Linked DNA regions of Homo sapiens. The protein of the gene in region 2 interacts with the protein of the main gene of each other region in a pairwise test. Each region holds a gene or a part of one and is shown on either strand. Other genes may lie near its edges.

Region 1 (7,472 bases), on a different chromosome or scaffold from region 2:
AAGCTACATTCTAGCATTCATTTTCTTTCTAATAGAGCCAGGATCTTGCTTTGTCACCCAGGCTGGAATGCAGTGGTGTGATCATGGCTCACTACAGCCTTAGACTCCTGAGCTCAAGTGATCCTCCCACCTTAGCCTCCCAAGTAGCTAGGACTATAGGCAAGAGTCACCATACCTGAGTCTAGCATTCATTTTTTTTCTCTTTTTTTTTGAAACAGTCTCACTCTGTCACCTAGGCTAGAGTGCAGTGGTGCGATCTTGGCTCACTGCAACCTCTGCTTCCCAGGTTCAAGTAATTCTCCTGCCTCAGCCTCCCAAGTAGCTGGGACTACTACTTGGCATGTTTCACCCTGCCTGGCTAATTTTTGTATTTTTGGTAGAGACAAGGTTTCGTCATGTTGGCCAGGCTGGTCTTGAACTCCTGACCTCAGATGATCTGCCTGCCTTGGCCTCCCAAAGTGCTGGGATTACAGGCATGAGCCACTGTGCCGGGCCAAGCATTAATTTCCAGTTGCTTCTGTTTTATTAGTACTTACTTACAGCAATTTATTTGGGTAGCAAAGTTGAAAACCTCCAGCCCATCCCTCAGTCTTGGTCAGGAAAATATTCTAGACAACAGGCTCAAACAGTCTGATTTAATTAGGAAGTTAAATAAGTTGAGGTGGGGTGGAGTGGGATCATCAGAAGGCTGACATGGGACCGCTGGAGTTGGCAATCATAGCAGTGTGAGGTTGGCAAGGGGAGCAACCCCCTTCAAGACAAGGCACAAACTATTTGGCAAGGAGAGATGAGGGGTGGGACCTCACTGTCAATGGACATGCTCAGGGAGGCCAGTGGGTTACATGCAACAGGAGGATCATTCAGGCAACTTCAGCTATGAGGCTGGGCATCTGTGAGGGCTGAAGGCTCAGGCTGTTCTCAAAGGCTTGTGATTCACCTGGCAAAAAGACAACAGTAGATGACACTTGGGAACATTCGGGAGGCTGAGGCCCCTACTCTCCCGGGCCCCAGTTTAGACGAATGGGCTATAGGCAGAACACACACGGCCAGGGTTCTTTCTGGTGCCCTACCACCTGTTTCCCCAAACAAAGACATCAGGACCCACATACAATAAATCACTGAAGAGAGGAGAGGGGGCAGAGCCTTGTTTGCACACTCTCCTTAGCTCTGAATATTCTACTGCAGGCCTCCAGGAGGCTCCAAGGAACCCAGCTTGAAGGTCATTGGTATGATCCAGTGCTTTTATTTACATACGCTTTTTTTTTTTCTTTTTTTTTTTGAGACGGAATCTCACTCTATCACCCAGGCTAGAATGCAGTGGTGCGATCTTGGCTTACTGCAGCCTCCGCCTCCTGAGTTCAAGTGATTCTCCTGCCTCAGCCTCCCGAGTAGCTGGGATTACAGGTATGCGCCACCATACCCAGCTAATTTTTGTATTTTTGGTAGAGATGGGGTATCACCATGTTGGCCAGGGTGATCTCAAACTTCTGACCTCAGCTGATCGTCCACCCTGGCCTCCCAAAGTTCTGGGATTACAAGTGTGAGCCACAGCACCCAGCCCGAATATGCATTTCTTTCTCTTTTTTTTTTTGAGACAGAGTCTTGCTCTGTTGCCTAGGATGGAGTGCAGTGGTGCTATCTCGGCTCACTGCAAGCTCTGCCTCCCAGGTTCACACCATTCTCCTGCCTCAGCCTCCCCAGCAGCTGGGACTACAGGCACACACCGCCACGCCCGGCTGTTTTGTATTTTTAGTAGAGACGGGGTTTCACTGTGTTAGCCAGGATGGTCTCAATCTCCTGACCTCGTGATCCGCCCGCCTCAGCCTCCCAAAGTGCTGGGATTACAGGCATGAGCTACCGCGCCTGGAATTTTTTTTTTTTTTTGAGATAGAGTCTTATTCTGTCACCCAGGCTGGAGTGCAGTGGTGTGATCTCAGCTCACTGCAACCTTCGGCTCCTGGGTTCCAGCAATTCTCCTGCCTCAGCTTCCCGAGTAGCTGAGATTACAGGCATGCACCACCAAGCCTGGCTAATTTTTTTTTGTATTTTTAGTAAAGATGGTGTTTCACCATGTTGGCCAGGCTGGTCTCCAACTCCTAACCTCAGGTGATCTGCCTGCCTCAGCCTCCCAAAGTGCTGGGATTACAGGCGTAAGCCACTGCACCTGGCCCCATTTCTTTAACATACACATAATGCTTACTATATACCAGGCACTATTCTAAACACTGCAAATATTTGCTCGAGCCCCTCAACAATTCAACAGGGTAGTTTCTAATTATTAACCCAATTTTAAGATGAGGAAACAGGTATAGAGAGGTTGATTACTTGTCCAAGATTACAGCTAGCAGGCATTGTAGCTAGGATTCGCAACAAAACAGTGGTTCCAGAGCCTGTTTGCTGACTTCTACCATGATCTACAGGTGAATTAACTGGGGCGCTGAGAAAAGCAGTGATATGCCCTAGAATTAATTAACTGTCAATAGGCTGCAACTAGTTCCCTATACTAGTGGGGTGACCACAAGCACAGGTTGCAGAGACAGTCGACCTGGATTTCACTCCAGCTGCACTAGCAGAATGAGTAGGAACATGCTGGATGTTGAGTTTCTGGACTTTGTAAAATCCTATATACCCTAATGGTAGTTTGATTTAAAACAACTCATTTATGTAGAAGCTTAGCACTGTGTCTGGCACACAGAAAGTGATTAATAAACATCAATGACTCCCAGGCCTGGATGCTGGTTAAATGCTAGGCATACTGTGTCACACAACACAGGAACCTAGCAATTCTCCTCAGCTCCAACCTGAGACCTCACCTGGGAGATGCTCACGCCTGTGAGTCTTTCCACACTCTCTGGCAGGCGAGTTAGAATGTCCAGTACTTCCCCAGTCACTTTGGCTGCCCCCATGGTCCCACTGCCGCTGGACACCAGTGTGATCTTATTGGCTGAAGTCAAGGGACCACTGATCTCCTCTGCCACCTGGCAGGAGAGAGACACCCACTCAGTGCCCATGATCTGACCACATTCCTCATAAAACAACTTACTCTGGGTTTTAAGGTCCTCGTTCCACTGATCATCCTTCCTCACTTTGGTCACTAATAATTCCCACCCCTAATTTAGAGTCCCCCTAGGCTGTTTCTCCCTAAGCCCCTCACTACACCCCACCCCTTAGTCCCTGGTTCTATTTCCTCCTTTCTTGGTGCCCACATGACCTCCAGACCTGGGGCAGCTTCTCTAGCAGCATGTCCAGCTGAGCAGCCTCTTGGTACAGCTGGAAGGCTTCTGCCTTCTTGGCCATCTGCTCAGCCTCGGCTCGGGCTCGGGCCCCTATGGCAAAGGCCTCAGCTTCCCCACGCATCTGAGGGTTAAGGATGCTTGTGAGATTGACGGAAATCATTAAGAACAAGAAATCCCCGATCAAGCAGCAACCCCCACCCTCTCCACAAGCCAGCATGGAACTGCCTCTTAACTCACCCGCACAGACGCGGCTTCTGCCTCCGCCTGCATAATTAGTTGGGACCTGTGGACAGAAGGGAAGTGGAGGGTGGAGCCCAGCAGCCCTTACTCCCAGGAGAAAGGCCCAGTGCTGCAGAGGCAGACGCTCCTGAAACCTGAAATCCATAGGAGTCCAGGTGGTGAAGGCTTCAGCACTCCATCTTGGGGTGCCTAGGTGGCAAGTGAGCTAGGCAGGGTCAGGGAGGGGACATTTACTTCTCTGCCTCGGCTAGGCGCTCCAGCTTGTAGCGCTCCGCTTCCGCTGGCTTCCGCACCCGGGCCTCCAGCTCCTTCTCCCGCCGGGCGATCTCCTGCTCCTGCACTGCCACCTGCTGGGCCCGCTCCACCACCTGCACCTGCACCCGCTGCTCCTCAATCTGCTGCTTAGTCTTGGCCACCTGGGTAGGAGGGTGAAGTCAGGTTCACGCTCTGAGTCAGAGGTGAAGAGCAAGTGCCCGGGAACCAGAGCTCCAGAGTGGGATATAAAAATAGGAGCCGGTGGCCGGGCGCGGTGGCTCACGCCTGTAATCCTAGCGCTTTGGGAGGCCAAGGAGGGTGGATTGCCTGAGTTCAGGAGCTCGAGACCAGCCTGGCCAACATGGTGAAACCCTGTCTCTACTAAAATACAAAAAATTAGCCAGGTGTGGTGGCGAATGCCTGTAGTCCCAGCCACCCGGGAGGCTGAGGCAGGAGAATTGCTTGAACCTGGGAGGCGAAGGTTGCAGTGAGCTGGGATCACGCCACTGCACTCCACCCTGGGCAACAGAGTAAGACTCCATCTCCAAAAAAAAAAAAAAAAAAAAAGGAGCAGGTGCATGAAGGTGGGTTCCCTCCTGTCTGCTTGGCCAGTCCAGTGGAGTCCAGTGTTTCTCTGATGAGCCCCCGTTTAATCTATTTTTCCCACGTGTGCCCCCTTCTAGAGTATAAATACCTTGAGGGCACTGAGCACATGTTGGCTTTCTGCTATCTCCAGTCTTGCTCAAATCCCCCCACTGTTGCTGCGATAACCTTAGTGCTAGCCTAGGCTACTGCAATAGCTGACTTATTTTTTGTGGGGGTGGGGACAGGTGATCTTTTTTGTCTTTTGCACATGGTGCAGATTTAACAGAAAAAAAAGTGAACCACGAGGCTTCTTCCTCATTCTCCAAACCACCTGGGTCCCTTTCCCAGAGAAACCACCAAGACCAGCTTCTTGTGTATCCTTCCAGGGATACTCTGAACATCTACAAGAATGTGTGTATTCATAGAATTCCTCTTATTTAGGCAGATTTCTTTCTTTTTTTTTGAGGCAGTTTCGCTCTATTGCCCAGGCTGGAGTGCAGTGGCACGATCAGCTCAGTGCAACCTTCACCTCCCAGGTTCAAGCTAATCTCTTGCCTCAGCCTCTCAAGTAGCTGGGACTACAGGCATGTGCTACCATGTCTGGCTAATTTTTGTATTTTTTTTAGTAGAGACGGGGTTTCACCATGTTGGCCAGGCTGGTCTCAAACTCCTGATCTCAAGTGATCCATCCGCCTCAGTTTCCCAAAGTGCTGGGATTACAGGCATGAGCCATCGCACCCAGCCTAGATTTCATCTTCTTATTCCTTGCAGTGTGAGGGAATCAGAAGGCTCTTATCAAGATGCTAGTGAGGAGAGGTGCCAGGCAAGGAACACATTTTTTTTTTCTTTTTGAGACATCATCTTACTCTGTCACCCAGGTTCAATGGCGTAATCATGGCTCACTGCAGCCTTGACCTGCCTGGGCTCAGATGATCCTCCCGCCTCCCCCTCTAGAGTAGCTGGGACTACAGGTGTGAACCAGCACACCCGGCTATTTTTTGTACTTTTTGTAGAGACAGGGTTTTCTATGTTGCCCAGGCTGATCTCAAACTCCTGGGCTCACGTGATCCACCTGCCTCGGCTTCCCAAAGTGTTGGGGTTACAGGCATGTGCCATCACACCCAGCCAGAACACATGCCTTCGTTGTCCCATTGCTCAGGCTCAGCCATGCACCATCATCATTGTAGGTCTCATCAATACATGTGATGCTTCCCCTGCCTCCTACCTTCCCCCGGGCCCATCTGTTCACTCCAGAGAGAAGCATAGCTCTGGAGACGGCACTCTGTACTGTCTTTCACCCTAAATTTTCAAACCCGTTCCAAACTGGCCTCGTTGCCCTCTACACCGGTGTGCAGGATCACCTCTCTCCTGTGTCCCTTAGGCAACCATTTGTCTGTTTCTTTTTCCTTCCTGTCTATGCCCACCTTTTGGTGAAACTCAACCTCCAGAAGCTTCCTCAGAAAGAATATAAAGACAATATTTTTTCTGAGGTCTTGCTTTCTCTGAGATTTTTATTCTACCTTTTTTTGAGATGGAATTTCGCTCTTGGCACCCAGGCTGGAGTGCAGTGACGCAGTCTTGGCTCACTGCAATCTCCATCTCCCAGGTTCAAGCAATTCTCCTGCCTCAGCCTCCCATGTATCTGGGATTATAGGTGCCTGCCACCACGCTCAGCTAATTTTTGTGTTTTTAATAGAGATGGGGTTCCACCACATTGGCCAGGCTGGTCTTGAACTCCTTATCTCAGGTGATCCACCTGCTTCGGCTTCCCAAAGTGCTGGGATTACAGGCGTTAGCCACTGCACCCGGCCTCTACCCTTCTATTTTAATACCAGTTAGGCTGAAAGCAGGCTGCTATGTTGGGATTAACTTTCCATCAGAATTCTGAAGGCATTCCTCCATGGTTTTCTAGCTTTTTAAGAAATCTGGGCTTGGGCCAGTCATGGTGGCTCATGCCTGTCATCCCAGCACTTTGGGAGGCTGAGGTGGGCAGATCACCTGAGGTCAGGAGTTCATGACCAGCCTGGTCAACGTGGTGAAACCCCGTCTCTACTAAAAATACAAAAATTAGCCAGCAATGGTGGCACATACCTGTAGTCCCAGCTACTTGGGAAGCTGAGGTAGGAGAATCGCTTGAACCCAGGAGGCAGAGGTTGCAGTAGCTGAGATCACGCCATTGCACTCCAGCCTGGGTGACAAGAGCAAAAATCCATCTCAAAAAAAAAAAAAAAGAAAAGAAAGCTGGGCTTGATGCAGTGGCTCATGCCTATAATCCCAGCACTTTGGGAGGCTAAGGTGGGAGGATAACTTGAACCCAGGAGTTCAAGACCAGCCTGTGCAATATGGCAAGATCTCACCTCTAGAAAAAAATTTAAAAATTAGCTGGGCGTGGTGGTGTGCCCCTGTGGTCCCAACTACTGGGGAGGCTGAGGTGGGAGAATCACTTGAGCCTGGGAGGTTGAGGTTACAGTGAGCCTTGTTTATGCCACTGTATTGGACAACAGAGCAAGACCCTGTCTCTGAAAAAAAAAAAAAAAAAAAAAAAAAAGGAATCTGAAGTCATTTTGAAGCCTGCCTCTTTGAGATCTCTCTCTCTCTAGAAGCTTTCATATTTTTTGTCCTCAGCATTCTTAAGTTTCACAGTGTTATGTTTCAATGTATATATTTTTCATTCATTGCATTGGGCACTTAGTAGACCATTTCAATCTAAAACCTCATTTTTATATAATTTTTCTCAGAATGTTTCTGCTCCCAATAAGTCATGCCACATTTGCATGTGCTTGACTTTTTTTTTTTTTTTTGGAGATGGAGTCTCGCTCTGTCACCCAGGCTGGAGTGCAGTGGCATGATCTCATCTCACTGCAACCTCTGCCTCCCAGGTTCAAGTGATTCTCCTGCCTCAGCCTCCCGAGTAGCTGGGACTGCAGGCGCGTACCACCACGCCTGGCTAATTTTTTGTATTTTTATAGAGTTGGGGTTTCACCGTGTTAGCCAGGATGGTCTCGATCTCCTGACCTCGTGAGCCACCCACCTTGGCCTCCCAAAGTGCTGGGATTACAGGCATGAGCCAACACCCCTGGCCCTGCTTGACTCTTATTAGTCCCTTTCCCTTACTTCCCTGCTTCTTTCTGTGGGGTTTTATTTTTCCCCTTTGTC
Region 2 (5,852 bases):
AACATCAAAAGTTTGCAAATACAAGCCGACGGAAAATAAATACATGAATTCTACCACAGTGAATTGGACCGCACTGGGAAACACAGATGAAGAAAGTCAATACCGCTTTGTCCTTCAGTGCCTGGCTCCTTTTTCAGCTCGTCTTGCTACTCTAGGCATTATGCCTGAAAAGTCTCCCAGGTGCCTGTGAGGCTCTAATTCCCTGGGTCCCATTGCCATGTCTCTGGATTTGCGAAGATCCACCGGACCTTCTGTGGAACTCCCGTGTCGGTGAACTTTTGTGCCACGTCCCCTAATTCTGCCCATGGTCATCTGCAGCTGCACGAGTTAGGGTCGGTGTTCCTTGGACGGGAAGAGACAGGCAGGAGTCGGAATGCTGAACCAGCACACTGGGGCGTTTTCTCATGTAGCCCAAGTGACCCAAGGTCTTCTTGAGCTTTGGAACCAGTCGCGTCCCACTTGACACAGCACCCGACTCCCAGTTTCTCAATCGTGTTGGCCCTCCGGCGATCTCCCGTTGGATGAATTGCACAGGCTGAAACTCGAGTCCCCTTTGATTTGCGCTTCATTAATTATTCATGATTCAGGTTGGAAGGCCTGCTGACGACCCCCTGTGGCCGTTCTCTGAGCTTTCCTGTCACATCGTTTCCTTCCACGCTCTTTGGTTCCTTGTGGTCCTGCTCCTTCTGCTGTCAGAGGAGCAGAGAGTTGATCTTATTGATTCTGGATACGGATACTTTCTAGGTGATCTGGATAATCAGGATAACGACCCTCAACAGCGGCGGAAAGGGAGCAGCCATTTGGTGTGTCTCAGAAAATCGCGCTCAGTTCCGAGGCCTCCTAGATGTGGAATCCTGCTCAGAGTTGTTCCCAGGTCAGAGAATGGAGAGAGCCTGGGCATGATGGGATATCCCTGCCTAGATCTTTCAGTGAGTCTCTACCTCAGCTACTCTTAGGATCAGGGGGAGAACCATGGAAAGGCCCGGTGTCAGACATCCGGAAAGAAGATGGGATGAATGTTTTACCTCTGAAGTACATCCCAAATCTGGGAGTTAACTTCAGCTTTGCTGGGCTCTATTTGGCCAGTGAAACTCTGCCTGGTTCATTCGCACATCCGGAAGCCACTTCACGGGGGGCCGTCGCAACTGGAACCACACACTTGGCATCGGCGGTTGAGCCAAATGGGGACTCGTGGTGCAAGCAACGCTCCCCACGTGTTAGCGTGCGTGAGATTCAGTTGGCGGAATTTTACTAGGTGTGTGTTGGTAGAGTGGGGCTGAGGTTTTCTTGCTCCTGTGGATGTATACGAAGTCAAAGGTCCTGCCCAGCCCTGCGGTCCCCTCAGTCAACTCTGTTTCAGAGACATAACGATTTGGATTGAGAACAAGTCAAGAAATTTTCAAGCCCTTGGATGTAGGGAAAAGAAAGAGAGATCAGACTGTCACTGTGTCTATGTAGAAAGGGAAGACATGAGACTCCATTTTGAAAAAGACCTGTACTTTAAACAATTGCTTTGCTGAGATGTTGTTCATTTGTAGCTTTGCCCCAGCCACTTTGCCCCAGCCGCTTTGACCCAACTTGGAGCTCACAAAAACCTGTGTTGTATAAAATCAAGGTTTAAGGGATCTAGGGCCGTGCAGGACGTGCCTTGTTAACCACATGTTTACAAGCAGTATACTTGGTAAAAGACATTGCCATTCTCTAGTCTCAATAAACCAGGGGCACAATGCACCGTGGAAAGCCGCAGGGACCTCTGCCCTTGAAAGCAGGGTATTGTCCAAGGTTTCTCCCCATGTGATAGTCTGAAATATGGCCTCATGGGATGAGAAAGACCTGACTGTCCCCCAGCCTGACACCCGTAAAGGGTCTGTGCTGAGGTGGATTAGTCAAAGAGGAAAGCCTCTTGCAGTTGAGATGGAGGAAGGCCACTGTCTCCTGCTCGCCCCTGGGAACTGAATGTCTCGGTGTAAAACCCGATCGTACATTTATTCAACTCTGAGCTAGGAGAAAAGCTGCCCTGTGGCGGGAGGCGAGACATGTTGGCAGTAGTGCTGCCTTGTTATTCTTTACTCCACTGAGATATTTGGGTGGAGAGAAACATAAATCTGGCCTACGTGCACGTCCAGGCATAGTACCTTCCCTTGAACTTAATTATGATATAGATTCTTTTGCTCACATGTTTTTTTTGTTGACCTTCTCCTTCTTATCACCCTGCTCTCCTACTACATTCCTTTTTGCTGAAGTAATGAAAATCATAATAAAAAAAACTGAGGGAACTCAGAGGCCGGTGCCGGTGCAGGTCCTTGGTGTGCTGAGTGCCGGTCCCCTGGACCCAGTGTTGTTTCCCTATACTTTGTCTCTGTGTCTTATTTCTTTTCTCCGTCTCTCATCCCACCCGACTAGAAACACCCACAGGTGTGGAGGGGCAGGCCACCCCTTCACTTGGAAAATCAGTTAAACACAAACACGGAATGAAAGTCAAAAGACAATATGTCATCTTTTTGAGAATTTTATTCACTTCAAAACAAATTCAACACACCTATTTACAAAGGGATTCCAGAGCCCACTTTTCGAGGCTGAGGAAAGACCCCGAGAGCGCTTTGCACAGCGCGCTTCCCAGCGTCCGAAACACTGCTCTCAGGGCGGGGCACAGCGGAAGGGCTGCACCTCTCAGGGTTCCCTAACTTTTCCCTTATTCAGTCGTCTAGAGAGCAAATACACAGTAATTCCCCCGTTTCCTATTGACGTCCCAGCGGAAGTCTGACTCCTGCGCGTCATGCAGTTTCTGAGGCAACGAATCACTGGCACGGAAGCTTTTCCTGGCGCGTTTCCAGAGAACCATGCGAACTACAATGTCCCTCACCAGAATTCAACGTGGCAGAGTCCCTGCATCTGCTCCCTGCCTGGCCTGGGCTCCCACATCCACAGAAGGGCCACAGCCGGGGAGCTTCGGAGTCACCGCACAGAGTCTGCTCTCTGCTCTGTGCTCCTCAGTCCCACAGTCCCCTCCAAGTCACGGGAGCTGGAGGCCAAGGAGCCCCTGCCACCTGCAGTCTCACTCCAGGTCAGAATCGCTGTCCTCTGAGGAGGAGGGAACCTGAAGGTCCTCATAGAGGACGCTTGGTGGGACACGAACACAGGGACCCTCAGACTTCTCTGAGACATGAGGGCTCTGAGCGAGGAAGGCTCCCGGCTTCTCAGGAGAGTGAAATGAGGGGGCCGTCAGCAGGCTGGAGCTCCAGCGTCCGTTTTCCAGTCTCCGAAAGAGCACTCTGAGAGGCTGGGCCCCATCATGGCTGGCCGCTGGGTGATGGGACATGGTGCAGGCCTGGGCAGTAGGCAGGCAAGGTCTGCTGTGCGGAGGCTGCCGGTCGCCGCTAAGCACCTGGGCGGGTGTCCTCGTGCCTGTCTGGGGTGACGTACGTGGTCCAAGTTCGGTTGCGGCTGGCGGAGGTTGGAGATTCTCCGGGGCCCCCAGCTCACCTCCCTGGATGGCGCTTTCGGGGATCTGGAAGGGACCCAGTCTCGGTTTCTTGGGGAAGTTCAGGCAAGCCTGAATCGGAGCCGGGGCAGATCTCTTGGCTCCTGGCCCGAAGCTGAGATTGGAGCCTAGGCCCAAGCTGTGTGTGGCGGCTGGTGGGCAGGGCTGTGAGGTCACCGCAGGACGTTTGTCTTGTGCCTGGGGGCTGACGGCCTGGAGCAGGCCGTGGGTTTTGGAGGCAGCCTGGGGAACTTCTCGACAGCCACCCGCAGGGCTGCTGTGTGTCGGCTTCACCACGAGGAGAGGCTCGGGGCCCTGGTGCCTGACTGCAGTCTGAGGGATGTCGGCCGCAGCCCCTGTCTGTCTTTCCTTTGGTCCAAGACTTGAGGAGGAGCTCAGACTGGCTTTTCTGAGGGGAGACAGTGAAGCTAAGACGGAGCCCCTGTCAGACATTTCGGTAGCTGAGCGATCAGAGAGGACAGGGTCCACACGCGGCCTCTTACTGGTTGTGTGGACCGGCATTGGCCCGCTTGCAACCTGAAAGAGAGGAAACAACACAGGTTAGAAGTTCCTCAGCATGGAGCCAACATGAAAATCAACCACATCCAAAGACAAGGTGCACACGCCATGAAATTCTTAGTACACTATCGACAGGCGGTCCTTGGAAGTAGGGACAGACCCTCCACCTGAGTGCTGATCAGGACAAGACACATGAAAGATGCGCTCTCGAGCTATGTGTAGCTGATCTAAGCACACCATTGTTCAAAAGATTGCGTCTTAGGCATTAGCTGGATCAAAGCGCCTCCACTCAGCCTTCCATGAAGTGGAACCGACTGATGCCCTTCCGAAGGCAGGTTGGTGGCTCAAGGGTACTCAGGACGTCTTCTCTGAACATATGCATGTTCCTGGGTTTAGCCTTCTCCACGTTTGGGGCCTCTGAGGGACTAATTTCCTCATGCCGCTAGGAACGTGTTGTTGGCAGGCTTGCCATAATTGGACAGAAAGAAAGCAACAGGAAATACGGCATCTTCAGATGCCTTCGCCTGGAATCAAATTGACCTGGAAGGATCGTGGAGTGTCTGACCCCAAGAAGGCAAGAAAGAGGGGTTCCCCGATTCCCTCCCGCAGACGGGAAGCTGAAAGGAAATCAACCAGGGTGACCTAGAGGAGAAAAAGACCAGGGGCCCAGGGTGACCCTCACCCTCAGATAATCAGAAGATTCCGTGGATCCTTTTTGATTTGGCAGCGGCTTCTCTGGAGGTTTCCTGGAAAATATGTGGAGGAGAGCCTTCCTCTGCGGGTCTTGTGGCCTGCAGAACAGAAAAAGGTCAGGCCGTCCTCCCTGGTTTTCCCCAGGAGACGGGGAGAACCCTGTCTGGGGCCCAGTCCCATTCCGTGTTTTGTGATACAGAAATGGACATCTGGTGCCCTTTCCGCCTCTGCACCTTCCCTCACGTGCCAACCTTCCCATCCTCCAGGTGGCCCTCTAGGCTTCCCAACTAAGGACTGTGATTTGGATTCCATCACTTTTCCCCCTGTCGTGGGGAACCTGCACGAAGCGCCCCCGCCCCTCCCCGTCCCTGAATCTCCCAGAGCCAAAGGAGCTCTTGGGTGTGGAACTCCGGAAGACACAGAGCTCCGGTCTGTTTCTCTGCAGCGTTCCTTCCCTGGCCCGGAGACGGAAAGGCACACGGTGTGCAGGTGCAGAGACACCATGTCCTTAGGAGGCAGTACCCTAAGAGTGGTGAAAACCACTCCCACTGCTCACCTTGGTCTCTCTTCCTTCTCTCCCTTATCCTTGTTCAAGGGCCCAGGGTTCGCTTCAACCTGGGGCTTCCATGGTTTCAGGTTTTCCTTCCCTTCCTTTTCCCCAAAGTTCGGTGGAACCAGGGCTGCCTTCCAGCACTTCATGGGGCACCTGGTACTTCTGGCCGTGTGGCCAAAGGCCTCACAGTTTTTGCACTTGAGCTGTGGGTGGAAAGGAAGTGATGTCAGTGAGTGAGCTGAAGCCACAGGCACCGATCCCACGTCAACATTGAGACGGATTGTGAATTCAGAGCTGAATAAGGATTCCAAAGAGGGGACACCGGCATGGGGGCCGTTAAGTGCTGGGAGAGTTCGGATACGATGTTCCCTCCCAAAGCCCATGTGACGGAGGAACTCTAAAAGGCAGGACTCAAGGTCCTAAGGGGCACGATGGTGAACCCGATGTCAACAACACAGCCAAACGTGGCTACACAGGACTCTAAGTAGAAAGGGAGGTTGCCCCCAAGAGTCTCTCAAGGGGCCTATCGGGCCGGGGAGGAGGTCCCAAGCCACGCCCACCTTGGATGGGAAAAGCAACCTGGGTGGTGGTGACAGAACTCTTTGG
Region 3 (8,993 bases), on a different chromosome or scaffold from region 2:
CCTGATCTGTTTTTAAAATAACTTGAAAACATCTGTCAATTAGAAAAAAATAATCTGTCTCCTCTGCCAGAAGAGCTTTATGAAATTGAGAGAATTCATAACATCTTGTTTGCTTGGTCTTCTGTTTTTAGAACATTCCTTTTTTTGTAGAATATTTTAAGCCCATTTATGTCTGAAATATAACTGACATAATTCAGTGTCTTATGGTTACATAAATTTGTATCAGTGACTTAATCTGTTTTCCTGTCTGTGAAATGAGGGTCTTTGATGATAACTTCCTAGCATGGAAGTTGTCAAAGGATCCCCTCTAGAAGGGGAGCCTGACCTTTTTTCTGTATTCATGGTGCATGCTACATGCTAAACATGCTACATGTAAACGTGCTGCATGGTTCTCATGATTACAGAATAAAGGTCAGGATCCCCTTCTAGATCATCTACTCCTCACACATACTGTGTTAAAGGCCAGCAACACAAGCCTACTAATTCCCTAAATAAATCTCATAATTTCTTTTCACTGTTCCCTCTTCCTGGAATCTTTCCTCCACTGATTCTCACCTCCCTCTACACCTTGATGTTGTGGAAGTCTTATTCTAATCCTCAAATAACAGCCAGATTTCACTCTAAGAAATCTTCCTAGTTCTCTCTAACCTGAATTAGTTTCTGGATTGTTACTCATATAAACGTTGTATTTTTGGTCTTTTTTTTTGTATTATATTTTTTATTTGAGAGGGGTGTGTCTATAATTTTTGTCCCTAGTCTCTATTCTCCCCACCTCCCGCCATTTAATGAACTCCTAAGCTCCTCTACTGTTGGGACCATATCTTACTCATATTTAGTTCTTGTGTCTATGCCAGGGCAAGCAGGTGCCTCATATATTTTAACTGAATTTGAGCAGGTAGTGAAAAATGTGTTTGTGGCCCAGGCTAGAGTGTGATGGTGCGATCTCGGTTCACTGCAACCGCCGCCTCCCAGGTTCAAGTGATTCTTCTGCCTCAGTTTCCCAAGTAGCTGGGATTACAGGCATGTGCCACCACCCCCGGCTAATTTTGTATTTTTAGTACAGTTGGGGTTTCGCCATGTTGGTCAGGCTGGTCTCGAACTCCTGACTTCAGGTGATCCACCCGCCTCAGCCTCCTAAAGTGCTGGGATTACAGGCATGAGCCACCACGCCTGGCCTGTTTTTAAGTCAACAAGAAAATTATCTACAACAGGAACTTCATTAGTGCTACAGTTTAGAATATACAAATATGAAAGGTTTCTAACTTTACCTTGTACATTTTGCATATATCATTAGTCATTGTTGGACACTTTGGCCATGCTTAATATAATTCAGTACTGAATATGTATTTCAATGTGAGAGTTTTTGACATCAACATTTTTAACTTTTGTCTAATTTATAATCTTAGAGTTAATGGAAATCAGTGCCTCTATAACTATGGTTTTAACCAGCTAATAAGTTGTCTTCATGATCTTTAGCTTCTAAACAATGAATAGTAGATACCATTTTTTGTTAAGATCTGTGTCTGAATTGAAAGGGATCAAAGTGTATGGTGAATAAAGCAGTAGAATGCAAATCAGAAGATATAATATTTAACATGATTAGCTAGTGTTAACTCTTGCTGTCCATCAGTTACATAATTAAAATTTTTATTCAGCACTTGATTAACATAAATGTTTCTCAATTTTCTATCTTTGTTCTACAGAATGGTAGATAACGCAGATCATCTCTGGAAAGGATATTGATCCGCCTCATGTAAAGTATGCTTAGTTCCTTTCCAGTGGTGTAAGTATCAAGTCCTTTTTGATTTTTATCTTCACAATCATTTTAGTAAAGTTAAGATGTCACTATGATTATGATCCAGATTTGACAACAGACGTTTGTAGAGTTGAAAAGCTTTTTTAGAAAATGAATCAAATGTTATACCTATTTGACATTAAGGTGAATAAGTGTCATGATCATGTGGTGAGAAATGAATTTTTAAATCTATCAGCCTTCTCTTACCATTTCTGTTTTCAACTTTGAATTTTAACATTAATTTTAAATTGAATATAAAATTAATTATTATTTTTAACTGCTTAAAGCTTAGAAGCATCCAAGATAGATGACTAACAGTTCAAGAGAGCTAATATTAGATTCCTTGTGACAAGCAGACTACTGGAAGCATACATCTTCATGTTGCCTTTTGTGTAAAAACTCCTAGCACCTTAACCATTTTCCTTTACCTGCTGGGGGCATGATGATGTAGTTAAGCCTATTAGCTGATGTGCTAGCCTTTCTTTGGAGTCAGGCAGAAAATACAAATTGAGATAGTGGTATTGTGTTGAGAGTGTTTTTGTGCTAGGATATGAACTATAACCACCAGTTCATATTAAATAGGCCTTTGAATAAAAGTATTCCGGGAATTTCAGATATTAGAGAAGACAGAGTATCTATTAGCTCATTAAGTGCATCTTTAGAGTCGAATGCAGAGTGCCTTTAGCATAAGTATTTTCTAAAATTTGATGGAGTCTCCACTTTGCTTAAATTCCTTCCGTTTTGGTTGACAGTTCTATAATACAGTAAGTAAACATTAAGAGAGATTTTCCTTATTATTTAGGCTTTTCATTATAGTTCCCCCACCCCCACCCCAGTAGATTCTATGATATAGTGAAAAGTTTCTGGAACAGACCTAGAAGATGTGAACTGTAGCCCGACTTTCTGCTAAGTAGCTATATCCTTGGGAAGGCACTTCACCTCTTTGGGCCTTAGTTTCCCTCCCCACTTTTTAAAAAAATTTATTTGCTAATGGCTATTTTCAATCTATCAGCCTTCTCTGTTACCATTTCTATTTTCAACTTTGAATTTTGACATTAATTTTAAATTGAATATAAAATTACTTATTATTTTTAACTGCTCAAAGCCTAGAAGTTTCTGAGATAGATGGCTAAGCATTCAGGAGAGTTAAGACGTCTAATGGCTATTGAAAATAGTAAGATGTCTAATAGTTACTGAAATGAATGTAAGCATCATGAAGCCATGAATTTTTGCCTGATTTGTTCCTTGTTGTGTCCTCTGTGCCTTGCACAGGATCTGTTACATAGTAGGCATTCAATAAATGTTACTTAAATGAATGATTTTTGTCTAAGTGATCTCCAGTTTTCTCATTCCACACCTAACTTATATCTCCCTTTATAAATGTGCATGTTTGTACTTGGATTTTTGTCACATATGGTAGAAATAAGATGATCAAAGTATGATTTCATGAATCACAGTGTTTATTGCCATACAAAGAGAATTTTTTCTTGGGTTCACAGTACTTAAAGATGGGGAGAGTAACATAGACAGACTTCACAGGGAATACACTCAATAGATGAGGTACATTAACCACATTATGAATGTGTTCCAAAGCTATTAAAGTGTCTTTGCTCAATTATGATGAAAGGAGGCCTCTGTGTTCAAGTGAAGGCTAAAGGTGGAGGTGTACCTTTACATGAGCAGTTCTTGGGAGAGGCTGGCTTGACCACCATAGCTGAGATCTGAGACCACAAGGAAGGCCCCTCAGTGCTAGAAAATGCTGGCCTGCAAGGTATAAAAGCTTTGAGGCCTGTTGCAGCCTGAGCTCTCTGGTTTTGGAGAAGCTGCTGACAGAGAGTAGCCCTGCCACAGCCTAAGCTCCCAAAGTGTCTGTTAAGCTCTTGAGTGTATATGTATTTTGAAGTCCAGTAGTTGTGACAGTAACTCACATATGCAGTTTGACATGAGGTGACATTCCTGAGAGGATGGAGAGTTCTCTCTCTGATAAAAATATTGTGATTGACCCTAGAGTGTGTTAAATTAGCATGCAGTAAATATCATGTATGCAAAACAAAACTAACCTATTTTGCCTAGTCATTCTAGATAATAAAAATAAAGACAGCAGAATTGAGCTGAAGAAAAAGCTGTTATCCAATAAAATTTTACTGTTGGTGCTTTACAAGTAAGATAGTAATGTCCTTTTTACCTCTGTGATTTCAAGATTAATTATTTGTGAATGCTTTAATCTTCTTTGCTCTACATGTTTGTAGAATTTAGCTTATGAAAGTATATTCTAGACCTCATGCCTTATCCAAGAAGGGTTTAGGTACATATTCAAGTCAGGATAAAATGTATTGTGAAAAGTTATTATTATGGTCTTATGGTATGATATTTTCTTAGAATATCAGTTTATGAACTGAGCCATAATTCCTGAATTTAATTGTTCTTTTATGCCTTAAACACTGTCTGTTATTACAGTGGTGAAATTCTTCTCACATCATTTTCAATTATTGTTGGCCTGAGTCTGCATTCAGATTAGTAATTTAAAGTGAAAGATGTTCCTTATCCTCTGAACAATCCTTGTGCATAAGAAAATTAATTCAATTCTTACATGTTATCTTTTTCTGTTATAAAAGAATTGCTGGTATCATGGACTTAGATGACCTTTGTAGGTCATTTACTGCCATAAATTCGTGATTATATGCTTAAACTAGGTAAATTATGAGAAATAAAATTGTGAAATGCCGGAGTATATGCCTTTGTTTATATTAATACACATTGGAACATTATTCTCAATATCCAGGAGAGCTTCTAGACTCAGCGTTTTCTCAGTAAAATATTGTATCTTCAGTGTCACATGCATGCTTTGATCCTGTTTGTTATGCTCTTAATCACTTTGCTTTGTAGTGATCATATGAATGATCATTCTAGCAATTGTGGATCATTTTGCTTTAGGTTATATTTGCATTAGGAAACTCTCAGTGCAGGGCACAGACATCTAATTTGAACAAGGTGATACATAAAGGGAAATGTATTCTCTGATGAAACAAAACAGCAAGAAGAGCAGGGATATATCAGGGGCTTAGGGATTATTGGAACAAGGGATGTGAGTGCTGCAGAGCTTTCTCCATCGCTCTGTTCCACGTTTCTTGGTATGTCTGCTTCTTCCTCCCATGAACTAGCTGCTTCCATATAATGAGGAATTTACCAGACTAATATCTTCCTGCAACTGAACACAGTTATGGTGACTGTTCATCTTTCCCCTCGTCTGACTAGAAAATTATGGGGAGAGCAAGGTTTGGCTTTCTTCTGTGCTCACCCCACTGGCCAGAAGGTGGGGTATTACGAGTGATAGCCCAAGAACATGTGCTTGGAAAGAATGAGGTGTTCTAAGCAGACAAAGTAAATAGGTGGCCTATTGTTTCTCCTTTTATGACTTGGAATAAAAGTGGTTCTAATAGTCAATGAATCTGAAATGACACAAAATATTAGATTGTTTCATATGCTGTGAAATCTTTAGTTTTGACAATTCTAATTCAAGTGTTAGGATGGATACTTTTCAGTAATAAGTGAAATTCATACAATTTACTTTTGCTTTATGCTAATACAGAGTGCTGCTCCATACAAGGAATGGTTTGAAGAACTGTATATAGATAACTAACTGCTCTGATATGAATACTATAGGAAAATACTATGATTGGGGATTTTTGTCCATATAATAAAACAGTTATTGAAGTCATCTAAAGTAAGATCACTTTATGAAATACTTTGATAACATGAAGACTGAAAATAGCAACAAACAGGTCTACTTCATTTTCAAGGGAAAATAATAATGTTTATGTTTAATTTTTTTCATTACAAAATATTGTGGGGGAACTTAGGCCATCAAGAAAGAATATAATAATCATGAAAATAGGTCTTTTTAAAATCATGGCTAACTTGTTACAAGTGAGTATTGGAAGAAATCAGACCCTAACATTTGTAGGTGTAGAGCAGATACTGTGGCCCATGGGCACAAATGGCCTGCAACATGTTTAGGTCCACAGAATGTGTGTGTTTGGTTTTGTTTTATTTTTATGAGCTTGTTTTAAAAACCAGGAAGATTTCATCTACAGTTCTAGATTTTTCCCTACTTATTTTTAAAAGGATTTGAAAGATAAAACAATCAGTGAAATGGAATAGACTATCCAAAGGTAATGCAGATTCATATGGAAATTGTGTATATGATAAAGGCAGCATTTCACATCGGAGGAGAAGACAGATATTCAGTAAAAACATACGACATCTAGCTGTCCATTTGGGATGAAATAAAGCCCCAATTTTTTATACTTGTTAAGTCAATAAAAATTCTAGATGGAGCAAGGATTTTAAATGTAGAAAACTATTACTAGGACCCCTAGGTTCATCAGTAATTAGAATAGTTTTATCTAAATGGCTTTAAATGAGACTTAAAGGAGTAGAATAGCCTGTGTGCCAAATCATATGTTTCCAGTTAAGTCCTGCAATGTATTGTAAAGGAGAATGATGTGTGCTTTTGGAGTCAATAAGATCTAGGCTTAAATCTTTTTCCTACTGTTTACTCAGATTTTTTGTGAAGTACAAAACTACACTGAGCTTTAGTTTCCTCAACAATCAATCCATCAACATAAAATGAAATGAATAAAGAACATCTACCATGGGGAGTTGCTGTGAGAATTGGATGAGATTATGTTATGTGAAATTCGTACCCAGTTCCTGCCTAGAAGTGACTGTTAATAAAGTTTTCATGTAGAAGGACAAAGAAACAGTGAGACCTTCAATAGCTATAGGACACTGGCCCAGAGCAGATGTTTGTTTGAGAAAGATGAAGAAATTTCTTGACATCTGTTTCCATCTGCAAACACTTATTGAGAGCCTACTGCATGCCATGCATTATATTTGGCACTAGAACAATAAATATCAAAATAGAAGAGATTACAACTTTAAAAAATCTTGAATGGAAAACTCAGGTCTTATAAGAAAGGAATTCAAGGCCGAGCATGGTGGCTCACACCTGTAATCCCAGCACTTTGGGAGGCCGAGGCGGGCGAATCACCTGAGGTCAGGAGTTTGAGATCAGCCTGGCCAACATGTTGAAACCCCATCTCTACTAAAAATATAAAAGTAGCCAGGCTTGGTGGCAGGTGCCTGTAATCCCAGCTACTCAGGAGGTTGAGGCAGGAGAATCGCTTGCACCCAGGAGGTGGAGGTTGCAGTGAGCCAAGACTGCGCCACTGCACTCCAGCCTGGTTGACAAGAGCAAAACTCTGTATCCAAAACAACAACAACAACAACAACAAAGGGATTCAAGCAGTGAGAATTTTTATAGTATTTGACTACTCCCTTAATATTGTTACTCACCCTAAGAAAACATTTTCTGATGTGCTGTAGTATCTTGTGCTAGTTAAAGGAAACATGTAAAAGTAATTTCCTAAGAAAAATGAATAGCATTGTTTGGCTACAACCATGAAAGATCTATTTCTCAGGGTAGCTATTAAGAGAGAATGCATTACCAGAGATGGAAAACTTAGGAAATTGCTAAGTAGTGAATGAAATGGTGCTTATTTTTTTTTTTAATGTACCTCTGTTTTCCACTTAAGTATTTTTGCTGGTTATTAGCATTTGCTTGGACTTAGCTTAGCAAATCATTTGTTCTCACTAAATGAGGTTGTAGAGAATTCCTAGGTCTGTTTAGCTAATATTTGGTAAATAATATAATACAAACTATTTTTTTCAGTAATTTTCCATTAATACTCTAATGTAGAGTAATACACTTGAGATGGGCAAAACACTTCTGAGTTATCACGTAGCCTGGGCTTATTGCACTCCATGTACCTAATCTATTGTTCTGGTATTATTTACATAACTAAAATTTTGGTTCTGATATTTACCAAAATTGAGGAAAATGTAAATTGTATGCCATATGAAATTAGGTTTTATGTTACACCTATGTTCACCTACTAATACATTTAGTATCTGTACCAATCCATTTGCCATGGCACAATCATTCTAGCATGGGACATACCTTCATTTTCAATACAGAAGCTTATGTAGAAATATTGCATCTTCTGAGCATTCTGTATAATATGTGCTTTGGTAGATACTGTCAATAAAGAGACTTCTTTTTATCTCTTTTTTTTTAGTTTGCTGGAAACCATGTCTCATTATACAGATGAACCCAGATTTACCATAGAGCAGATAGATCTGCTTCAGCGACTTCGGCGTACTGGAATGACTAAACATGAAATTCTCCATGCCTTGGAAACTTTGGACCGTCTTGATCAAGAGCATAGTGACAAGTTTGGAAGAAGGTCCAGCTATGGAGGAAGTTCATATGGGAATAGTACTAACAATGTCCCAGCATCTTCCTCTACAGCTACAGCTTCCACACAGACGCAGCATTCGGGAATGTCCCCGTCACCTAGCAACAGTTATGATACTTCCCCACAGCCTTGCACTACCAATCAAAATGGGAGGGAGAATAATGAGCGATTATCTACATCCAATGGAAAGATGTCACCAACTCGCTACCATGCAAACAGCATGGGTCAGAGGTCATACAGTTTTGAAGCCTCAGAAGAGGACCTAGATGTAGATGATAAAGTGGAAGAATTAATGAGGTTAGTGACTTTGCTTATTCAGAGTCCCTAAAAATGTCTGTATTCTTAGATTGTTTTTAAGTAGTATGCTGCGTTTCAGCTACTTAGCTATAAGAACTGTAACTTCCTCTAGCTATAAGAACTGTAACTTCCTCCTCCCACCTTTGGAGATGAAAGAAAGAAAGTTCAAGCTTTATGTTTTTAATTTAAATTTTCTCTTCTTTACTTCAGCCCTTTCTCTTTGCTGCTTGACAAGCCTTTTCCATTCTGTTTATCAAACACTAATCTTCTCTATGACTCTAATAGCTAATTTCTGACTAACAGACACATTCTAATCCTTAAAAATCTGTTGTAAGTACTTTTTCTGAGGGATAATTTTATCTTGATCAGAATATGTACACTCTTAATTTTTCTGTTCAACATTCCAATCAAGAAAATAATTTGGGGTACCTATTATATAGGTTCTAATTTTAGCAATAGATGACACACACACACACACACACACACACACACACACACACACACACACACATTGTCTTTTATAAGTGTAAGAACTTAGAGTTTTAAACACTGAGAAAAGAAATCTACTTTTTTTTTTTTTT
Region 4 (8,993 bases), on a different chromosome or scaffold from region 2:
TGTGTTTCTACTTGGAAGGCTGAAGGATTCTTCTGTTTTTTAAGAGAGCATTAACAAAGCAATTATTTTGGTATTAAAAATGGGGAAAATTTGAATTTTAAAAATTTAGACATTAACTACTGAACTATATTAGAAATTACTTTTGAGGTATGGGTAAAATGATTAATAGTCCATTTTGTTAGATTTAGTTTTTGTTTTTATATTTATTCTAGGTGATTCAGGTGTCTGGGGATTGAAAAAAAATTTTGCTTTATTGGAGCTTTTGGAACGACTGCAGAATGGGCCTATTGGTCAGTATGGAGCTGCAGAAGAATCCATTGGGATATCTGGAGAGGTATTGATCATACTTGGTGAAATATTTGTTACGAGCATGAATTTTTCTTTTAATAGATGCCATTATTAGCACAATATTACTTCATTTATTTCAGCAGGTAAATTTCTAGAAACACAACTTTTCATTACATTACAGTTCTGAAGGCCAACACTATTCCCAAGAGAAAAAACTAGAATTATTTGAAAATCCTATGCCTAAACTATGCTTTATGTGTGAACTTTTTTTTCCTTATCATAATTCAGTTCTACCAAGAATAAAGTGAAAAGAGGAAGAAGATTATGGAATAGTAAGAAAGATATGTAAGCAACAGTAGAGAAGAGGATGCAAAAGTAGTCAACAGTAAAACTCAATGAGAGAAAGAAAAACTCGATGTAAGAGGCCATTTAATACAGAGGGGAAAATGCCTTAAAGATAGCAGTAACTTCTGAGGGAATTGTTACTGTTATAGCTTCAAGAAAAGGTTAAACTTTGTATAGATGTACTGTCTTTATCCATACAGGTAGATGTCTAGTAAATATCAGAATCCATGAACACTGGATTTTAATAATGTAAAAGTATATTTTTAGCACTTATGTGTTTGCATAGCTGCACATATGTACTATAGGACATGGCTTTCGTAGGCTGTTATGGGTAAAAATATATTTGGAGTAAATATCAGTTAATGATTTTGGTGATCAACTTGCAAACCACATATTTTGTATGAAGGAAAAAAAATGTCGGATTGCTTTCACTTCTCTTTCATTAGATGATGATTTCTTTATACTAAAGTGAATCAGTGAAATGAATTTCAAACTGCAACACTCTGTTTTCTAAAAGTTATGCAGTTCTTTCTGTGCTAAATCTTTAATCTTTATTTCAAAAGACATTACTGTTAGCTAATGTTGACATTATAGTTTATAATTTATTTATTTGTCAGGTCTGGGAAACAGAAGACCTGAATTTTTATGGTACATGTGTTTATTTCTCATAATTGCAAACAAAACTCTTCCACTTTGGATTCATTTTTTATTTAATGTGATAAAGAATGACACCATTGATGTATTTAAACATTTTTATTTTTGAAAAAATTTATACTAAATTTCTCCCCTTCCAATTATGGCCTTTTAATATTGAGTAAAAGTGTTCAAAACATTCTTGATTATCTGACATGTAATTTTTTATCTACTTGAAATAAAAGTAATTATTTCATAATTAGTTATTTTTTGTAATTCCTGAAAACTAGAAATAATATTTACATGCTTACATATAGGTTTTATTTATTTGTTTATTGTTATTTTTTAAGACAGAGTCTCACTCTGTCACCCTTGCTGGAGTGCAGTGGCGTGATCTCAGTTCCCTGCAGCCTCCACTTCCTGGCTTCAAGTGATTCTCGTGCCTCAGCTACCTGAGTAGCTGGTATTAGAGGCATGTACCACCACACCTGACTAATTTTTGGATGTTTAGTAGAGATGGACTTTCCCCATGTTGGCCAGGCTGGTCTCTTACTCCTGGCCTCAAGTGATCACCTGCCTCAGCCTTCTTAAAGTGCTGGGATTACAGATGTTAGCCACTGAGCCTGGCCTATTTTTTTTTTTATTTGCTTAAATCAGTGGTTTTCTGCCGTGATTGTGCAATAGACTCACCTGTGGAGCTATTAAAATAACATGGCGTATAATTAGAAAAATATATACAAGTCTAGGGTTCATCCACAACCTGTTGAAATAAGAATTTCTCTTCCAGACAGCTATGTTTTTAAAAGCTTACAGCTAATTCTGATGCATACTCCTACATTTTCTAAATAGCATTTGTGCTTCTGTCCTTCCTATACATCATCATGACAACTAATATTTAAAGCTATGGGGATGTATTTAATATCAGATTTTTGTAGTTTTACAGAAAGACTTTTGACTTCTCTATGGTTTAGTTTCTTTTGTGTAAAGTGAGGGGATTTGGTGGAAGAGATCTTTGCACCGAATATGAATCTATGAGAATAGTTCTATTTTTGGCTTCAAATTCATAACATATATTGGCCAGTTAATCTTGGAAATAGCTTCTTACCCCTAGAAATGAATGCTTCTCAGATGAGTATTGAATGACCTTTGTTCTTAATGACCAATATATTTTCATATGTAAATATTGTTCAGTTAAGCAAAAAGGATTATGGATTCTATATTTAAAAATTCGTCATGTTATACTGATTGGGTTCAATTTTAAGGCATTAATTTTTTGTTTATCAGAGCATCATTCGTTGTGATGAAGATGAAGCTCACCTTGCCTCTGTATATTGCACTGTGTGTGCAACTCATTTGTGCTCTGAGTGTTCTCAAGTTACTCATTCTACAAAGACATTAGCAAAGCACAGGCGAGTTCCTCTAGCTGATAAACCTCATGAGAAAACTATGTGCTCTCAGCACCAGGTGCATGCCATTGAGTTTGTTTGCTTGGAAGAAGGTTGTCAAACTAGCCCACTCATGTGCTGTGTCTGCAAAGAATATGGAAAACACCAGGGTCACAAGGTATGAATTTAATTATTAATCAGTTGGATCACTGTAGCTACTTTACCAGCTCAGTATTCGTTTTCACTGACCTGGTTCTTTATTCTGAAAGTAGGGATTGAAGAAGAGTTAAGTGATGAGTGATTGGGTTTGGTAGCATGAAAATAAATGAGAGATTTAATTTCTGAATGTTATAAAAAAAAAAAAACTTCAAAGAGGCATCATGATTCTTCACAAAAAAATAGCTTTCGAGCAGGAAACAAACATTCTGTTTGCTTGCATGTTTTCATAATGCACCAGATTGTTTTGACAATATTTATGTCTGTTAGCTCTTACTTAGGATATGATTTTAGAGATAGTCTCTTGGTTTTTTGTTTAGCAATAAACGGACTTCCAAATTTTAAATTACTTCTTTGCAGTACAGTTTTCTTATAAAGGAGTGAAAGTAAATTAGTATTTTTCTGTGTCATAAAAGTCACTTGTGGCTGATGCTTTTTTGTATTAATAGGGATTTAAATAGTTTTTTATATTATTAGTCAATACTATGAGTTCTTTTCTCTAATTATGGTACATTTTATAGCATTCAGTATTGGAACCAGAAGCTAATCAGATCCGAGCATCAATTTTAGATATGGCTCACTGCATACGGACCTTCACAGAGGAAATCTCAGATTATTCCAGAAAATTAGTTGGAATTGTGCAGCACATTGAAGGAGGAGAACAAATCGTGGAAGATGGAATTGGAATGGCTCACACAGAACATGTATGGATTTTTTTTCTTCTTCACTTTCTCATTCTTTTTTATTTTTCATATTTTCACCTTCTACTAAGTAATTAATGGGCAATTACAATTTGCCAGTATTGCACCAATCATTAGAAAGTTTTTTAAAAGTCCCTGTCTTTCAGGAACTCATTCATCATGGAAAAGAGAGAGTTTGAAATATGGTAACTATTTTATGGAGGAGAAGTACAGGGTGCTTTGGCATCACAAAACAGGGACAATGATTTATGGAGGTCAGAGAAGTCCTTATAGAAGAAATGGTGTTTAAACTGAGATTTGAAGAATTTCAGTCAGGGAAAAGAGCAGAACGGGGAATGAGTTGTCCCAAGAAGGGAACAATATGTTAAAATGTTTGTAAGTGAGGATTGTACATATTGTAGAGACTTAAAGAAGCTCACTGTAGTTAGAGCTTTAAGTATTGAATGGGACATGACAAGAAAAGAGGATATGGAGAGTTCAAAGCCAAATCATGCAGGATCTTGTCAGCCATGTTAAAGAGTTCAGAACTTAGTTTAAGGACAGTGATGAGCCATTGAAGAATTGACTTAGGAATGATATAATCAGATTTTCCTCAAGAAAGGTTGTTTTAAATGTAGAAAATGAATTGGAGGAGCAACAAAATTGGAAGCAGGCAGACCTATTAGGATGTTGTTAAAGTTTTCTAGTTAAAATACTAGAGATGTTTATGGCCTATAATACACTAGGGTAGTGAGAGTGGACACAAGTCAATGGATTTGAGATTTTAAATAAGTAGAATAGATAGGTCTTAGTGATTAATTGTTAATATTGATTGGATAGGTAACTTAGAGGTGATGAGGCATGATCAGATTTTGGGTGTATTTTGAAGTCAGCAGAATTTGCTGAGGGACTAGTGGGCTATGAAAGAGAGCTGATAATGATGACTCCGGTTGTTTTTGCTTCAACATCCTGAAGGATGGAGTTGCCATTTACCAAGACAGAGGCAATTAGGTTTGGGAATAGGGGAGACTGGAGATTAGGCATTCCATTTTGCTTGAGATGTCATTTATAAACAGTTGAATTTCCAATGTCTGTGCATTAGGGGAAAGATCTAGCATGGAGATTTATATTTTGGAATTTAATATAGATGGTATTTAAACAATGTCTCGCTCGGTCACCCAGGCTGGCATGCAGTGTTGTGATCACCACTCACTGCAGCCTTGACTTCTGGGGCTCAATCAATCCTCCCGCCTCAGCCTCCTGAGTAGCTGGGACTACAGGCACATGCCACCACGGCTGGCTAATTTTTTCCATTTTTTGTAGAGACAGAGTTTTGCCATGTTGCCTAGGCTGAAATTTTAAATATTTCACAGGTAAAATCTTTATTAACATTACAGTTGCTTAAAATTTATTTTCATTTTCTTAGGTACCAGGGACTGCAGAGAATGCCCGGTCATGTATTCGAGCTTATTTTTATGATCTACATGAAACTCTGTGTCGTCAAGAAGAAATGGCTCTAAGTGTTGTTGATGCTCATGTTCGTGAAAAATTGATTTGGCTCAGGCAGCAACAAGAAGATATGACTATTTTGTTGTCAGAGGTTTCTGCAGCCTGCCTCCACTGTGAAAAGACTTTGCAGCAGGTAGGTAGTTTAAATGTGGTTAGGGACTTAGTTGTAAGTTTAAGTAGATAATTACCAGAGGTATACATTAGTGTGTTTTATTAATATTTTGTGTCTGCTGTATGCAGTAACTTTGTGCTTAGGAAATGGTCTGCAACCTTGAATTATTTCACTAGTATGGAATTATCAGTGTCGTTCACGTGCCTTTCCCACCATAAGCCATGGGTTCTTGAGGCCTTCTAACTTCTTGCCATTCTTCAGTTATGCCAAATCCTTTTACTCTTCTTTGCCAAGCATATATGTAGTTTTTTTTTTTTTTCTGCTTGGAGTGCATATATCTCTCTTTTCTAATAGTGGAAATCTTCCTTCTCCTTCAAGGTCCAGCTTAAATATTTGCCTTTCTTTGAAGCTTTCTATTTGTTGGTCTTTTTTTGAGTGCCTCTCTACCATGTACTGCCTACGTCTGCTATAATTCAGTGGTTCTTCACTGTTAGAGCAAACGTATGTTTTGTGATGGTTGAGATACCATAAGAAATTTGTTACCCAGTTTGCAGATGACTTACTTTTTTAAATAAATGAGATTCAGTTATTCTAACACAAATGTCAGCTTTACCCATTTGTGTTTTGGATCTGTTTTCATAAGTGTGAGGTATAAGAATAACTATTGCCCTAGGAATTTCAGAAAAGCTGCAGTCTGTGTTATCTTCACTGATATATTGCTAATAATTGTGTTGATTTCAAATCATTGTAGGCTAAGCCTTGTACCATTGTAGAGCTTTTTCTCTTAAATATGTGATTACACTTACATGAGAGTGGCCAGTCTATAGCCTCATCAGTCTTGGGTTATCATTTAGTCCTTACCACACTGAATTGTAACAGTTGATATGTATGCTATTTATTAAGTTGATTTTCAGCTCCAAACCTACTCTTCTATCCTCTATTTTGTGATACTAGGGCTAGAACTCTACAGACCTCATAATTGTGTTGCCAGCTGGGCCCATGTTAGGTACTGTCAAGAGGGGGCATAGTTACTCATGTGAGGAGACCACCCTTCTCGGAGGTTTGAGTTTCAGCTCCATGAGCCACTCCTGCAAGTTTCTAAGTTTTAATAATTCTAACTTCTTCCTTTTATTCCTTTAGCACTGGAAGTGGTAGCTATGTTATTTCATACAATTGCTACCTCCTTAATACCTCAGAGTTCCTTTTAACCTTTTAGCTACCTAGTTAATAACTACACCTAGTTAACAGTTTTTATTTTAAGTTCTTTCTATTCAAGTAATGGTGTGATTTGTGTCTTCCGATTTGACCTTGAATGACACAATATGCCTATGTGTTTTAGATGCTGACCTTGTTCATCTTTGATGCATCTTGTTCATCTTTGTGTCACTAAATTCTTTGCATCTAGATAGAAAGAGCTTAATAAATACATGTTTAACTCATGGCGGATAATGAAGCTACATAGCAAAATCAGAGTGGAGTCATGTCCTAAATCATATTTACTTGAACACTTAAAAGTATTTTCATATTTATTTTATGAAAAAGTTTGTTCATAGTTACTGAAATATTTAAGTATTTTAGAGTTTCTGAAGTGTTGTGCCAAAATGACTGGTATATTAGTCCATTTTCACACTGCTTTACAGATACTACCTGAGACTGGGTAATTTATAAAGGAAAGGGGCTTAATTTACAGGTTTGCATGGCTGGGGAGGCTTCAGGAAAGTTAGACAATCATGGGGGAAGGCGAAGGGGAAGCAAGCACCTTGTTTACAGGACGGCAGGAGAGAAAGAGAGAGCAAAGGAGAGGTGCCACACTTTAAAACCATCAGATGTCATGATTAATCACTATCATGAGAACAGCATGAGGGAAACTGCCCCAATAATCCAATCATGTCCCTCCCTTGACATGTGGGGATTACAATTCGAGATGAGATTTGGGTGAGGACACGGAGCCAAACCATATCAACTGGTAATTTTTAATGATACAGTATTATCTATGTTAATGCAAAAAAATCAAGGTCTTGGATTCATTTTTCATATGGACCTATTAGTTTTGTTCTATTTTATAACTACAGAATACTAACCAATGTTCTTTAAAGTTCCCACTACAGAGAAAATTGAACAGAGGAATGGATGGAACATCACAAATTGATCTTCACTTCTGAGAACATAATTTAATCATCCATCCACTCTAAACAAATTATGCATCATCTAAAGTTCTTGGCATGATACTGGATGCTGAATATTTATTCATTTAGCAAATATGTATTGAGTAGCTAACATATGCCATGTATTTAAAATATATCAGTGAACACAATAAGCAAAAAGCCATAATCTTGTGAAATTAGCATTCTAGCAAGAAGACAGGCAATAAACCATAACCATATCTAAGTAAGTTAATTATACTATATGTTAGAAAGTTCTGAGAGCTAATCAAAAAAGAATTCTGCAACTACATGTTTATGTTTGTACAGCAGATTGCATTAATAAGTAGAGTAGTCAGGGTAAGCATTATTGAGGGAAGGTGAGATTTGAGCAAAGATTCAAGTAAAAAGTTGAAGGAATTCGTTCAGGCCGTAACTGGGAGAAGAACATTGTAGTTGAGGAAATGTTATAGCAAAAACCCTAGGGCAGCATGCCTGGTATGTTTGAGGAACAGGAAAATAGGCCTCTTGACTGGAGTAGAATAAGCGAAGGACAGAGTAATAGGAGCTGAAATCAGAGGTTAATAGAGAATTATATGTAAGGAAGGCCCTGTGAGGCATTATAAGGACTTCAATTGTTTTTTTTTTTTTTTTGGCCGGGGGCGGGAGGAGTGGGTTGGGGACAGGGTCTTGCTCCCAGGCTAGCTAGAGTGCAGTGATACAGTCTCGTCTCACTATACCTTCTGCCTCCTGGGCTCAAGTGTTCCTCCTGCTTCAGCCTCCTGAGTAGCCTGGACTACAGGGGCAAGCCACCACATCCAGCTACTTTTTTTGTATTTTTCGTAGAGACAGAGTTTCGCCATGTTGCCCAGACTGGTCTAAAACTCCTGGGCTCGAGTGATCCATCTGCCTTGGCCTCCCAAAGTGCTGGGACTACAGGTGTGAGCCACCATCCTTGGGTGGACTTCAACTTTTACTGATTGGGATAGGACCATTGTAGAGTTTTGAGTAGAAGAGTGACTTAATCTTATATGTTAAAAGGATTTTTCTGGCCTATGTGTCTAAAATAGATTGAAAGAAGGCAAAAATGGAAGGAAGGAATTCAACAGTTAAGCAGCAGTTGTAGAATTCCAGGTGAGAGGTAATAGTGGCTTGGATAATGGGGATTAGAAGTGCCCAGATTCTGGATGTTCAAAAGGATTTGTTAACAGATTGTACGTAGGGCATGCGGGAAAGAGAAAGCAATAATGACTTCAGCGTTTGTCCTGAACAACTGAAACAGTGGAATTGCTGTCAACTAACATGAGTATCTAACAGTGAGCAAAAACAGATAATACTACCGTTCTCATGGAGCTTGCATATTATTGGGAGATCTCTTTCATATAAAGACTATGTTGGTATATGTATAGATAGTCTGGAATAATATTCAAGAAACTGGAAAGTTCTTGACTTTGAGGAGTGGACCTGTATTCTTTATTTTTTTTAACGAATACATGTATATCTGAAATTAATTTTTAAACTTTTTATAGACATAGAACATAGATATAGAAATGTATGCATAAGTATTCAGTTGGCTGAATTTTCAGACTGATCATTAATGTGTAACTAGCACTCAGATCAAGTACCAGAACATTGTCAGTACCCCAGTAGTTCCCTCATACTCACTTCTGGCCACTACCTGCCT

What was found.
Region 1: the proteins of FAM90A1 (region 2) and FLOT1 interact in binary tests that used the Homo sapiens proteins (3 or more experiments, as listed by UniProt).
Region 3: the proteins of FAM90A1 (region 2) and HMBOX1 interact in binary tests that used the Homo sapiens proteins (3 or more experiments, as listed by UniProt).
Region 4: the proteins of FAM90A1 (region 2) and TRIM23 interact in binary tests that used the Homo sapiens proteins (3 or more experiments, as listed by UniProt).

Annotation. Positions count from the first base shown.
Region 1 is NC_000006.12:30,727,209-30,734,680, forward strand, and holds the end of FLOT1 (flotillin-1), read right to left. Parts: intron 3,893-7,472; coding exon 3,711-3,892; intron 3,520-3,710; coding exon 3,474-3,519; intron 3,358-3,473; coding exon 3,220-3,357; intron 2,979-3,219; coding exon 2,814-2,978; intron 938-2,813; coding exon 908-937; 3' UTR 501-907; downstream 1-500. UniProt on the Homo sapiens protein: May act as a scaffolding protein within caveolar membranes, functionally participating in formation of caveolae or caveolae-like vesicles.
Region 2 is NC_000012.12:8,218,767-8,224,618, forward strand, and holds the end of FAM90A1 (protein FAM90A1), read right to left. Parts: intron 5,450-5,852; coding exon 5,250-5,449; intron 4,792-5,249; coding exon 4,683-4,791; intron 4,019-4,682; coding exon 3,056-4,018; 3' UTR 2,494-3,055; downstream 1-2,493.
Region 3 is NC_000008.11:28,962,108-28,971,100, forward strand, and holds part of HMBOX1 (homeobox-containing protein 1), read left to right. Parts: intron 1-1,703; 5' UTR 1,704-1,760; coding exon 1,761-1,783; intron 1,784-7,935; coding exon 7,936-8,412; intron 8,413-8,993. UniProt on the Homo sapiens protein: Binds directly to 5'-TTAGGG-3' repeats in telomeric DNA. Associates with the telomerase complex at sites of active telomere processing and positively regulates telomere elongation.
Region 4 is NC_000005.10:65,605,439-65,614,431, reverse strand, and holds part of TRIM23 (E3 ubiquitin-protein ligase TRIM23), read left to right. Parts: intron 1-212; coding exon 213-334; intron 335-576; exon of another isoform or gene 577-705; intron 706-2,550; coding exon 2,551-2,829; intron 2,830-3,388; coding exon 3,389-3,571; intron 3,572-4,973; coding exon 4,974-5,189; intron 5,190-8,993.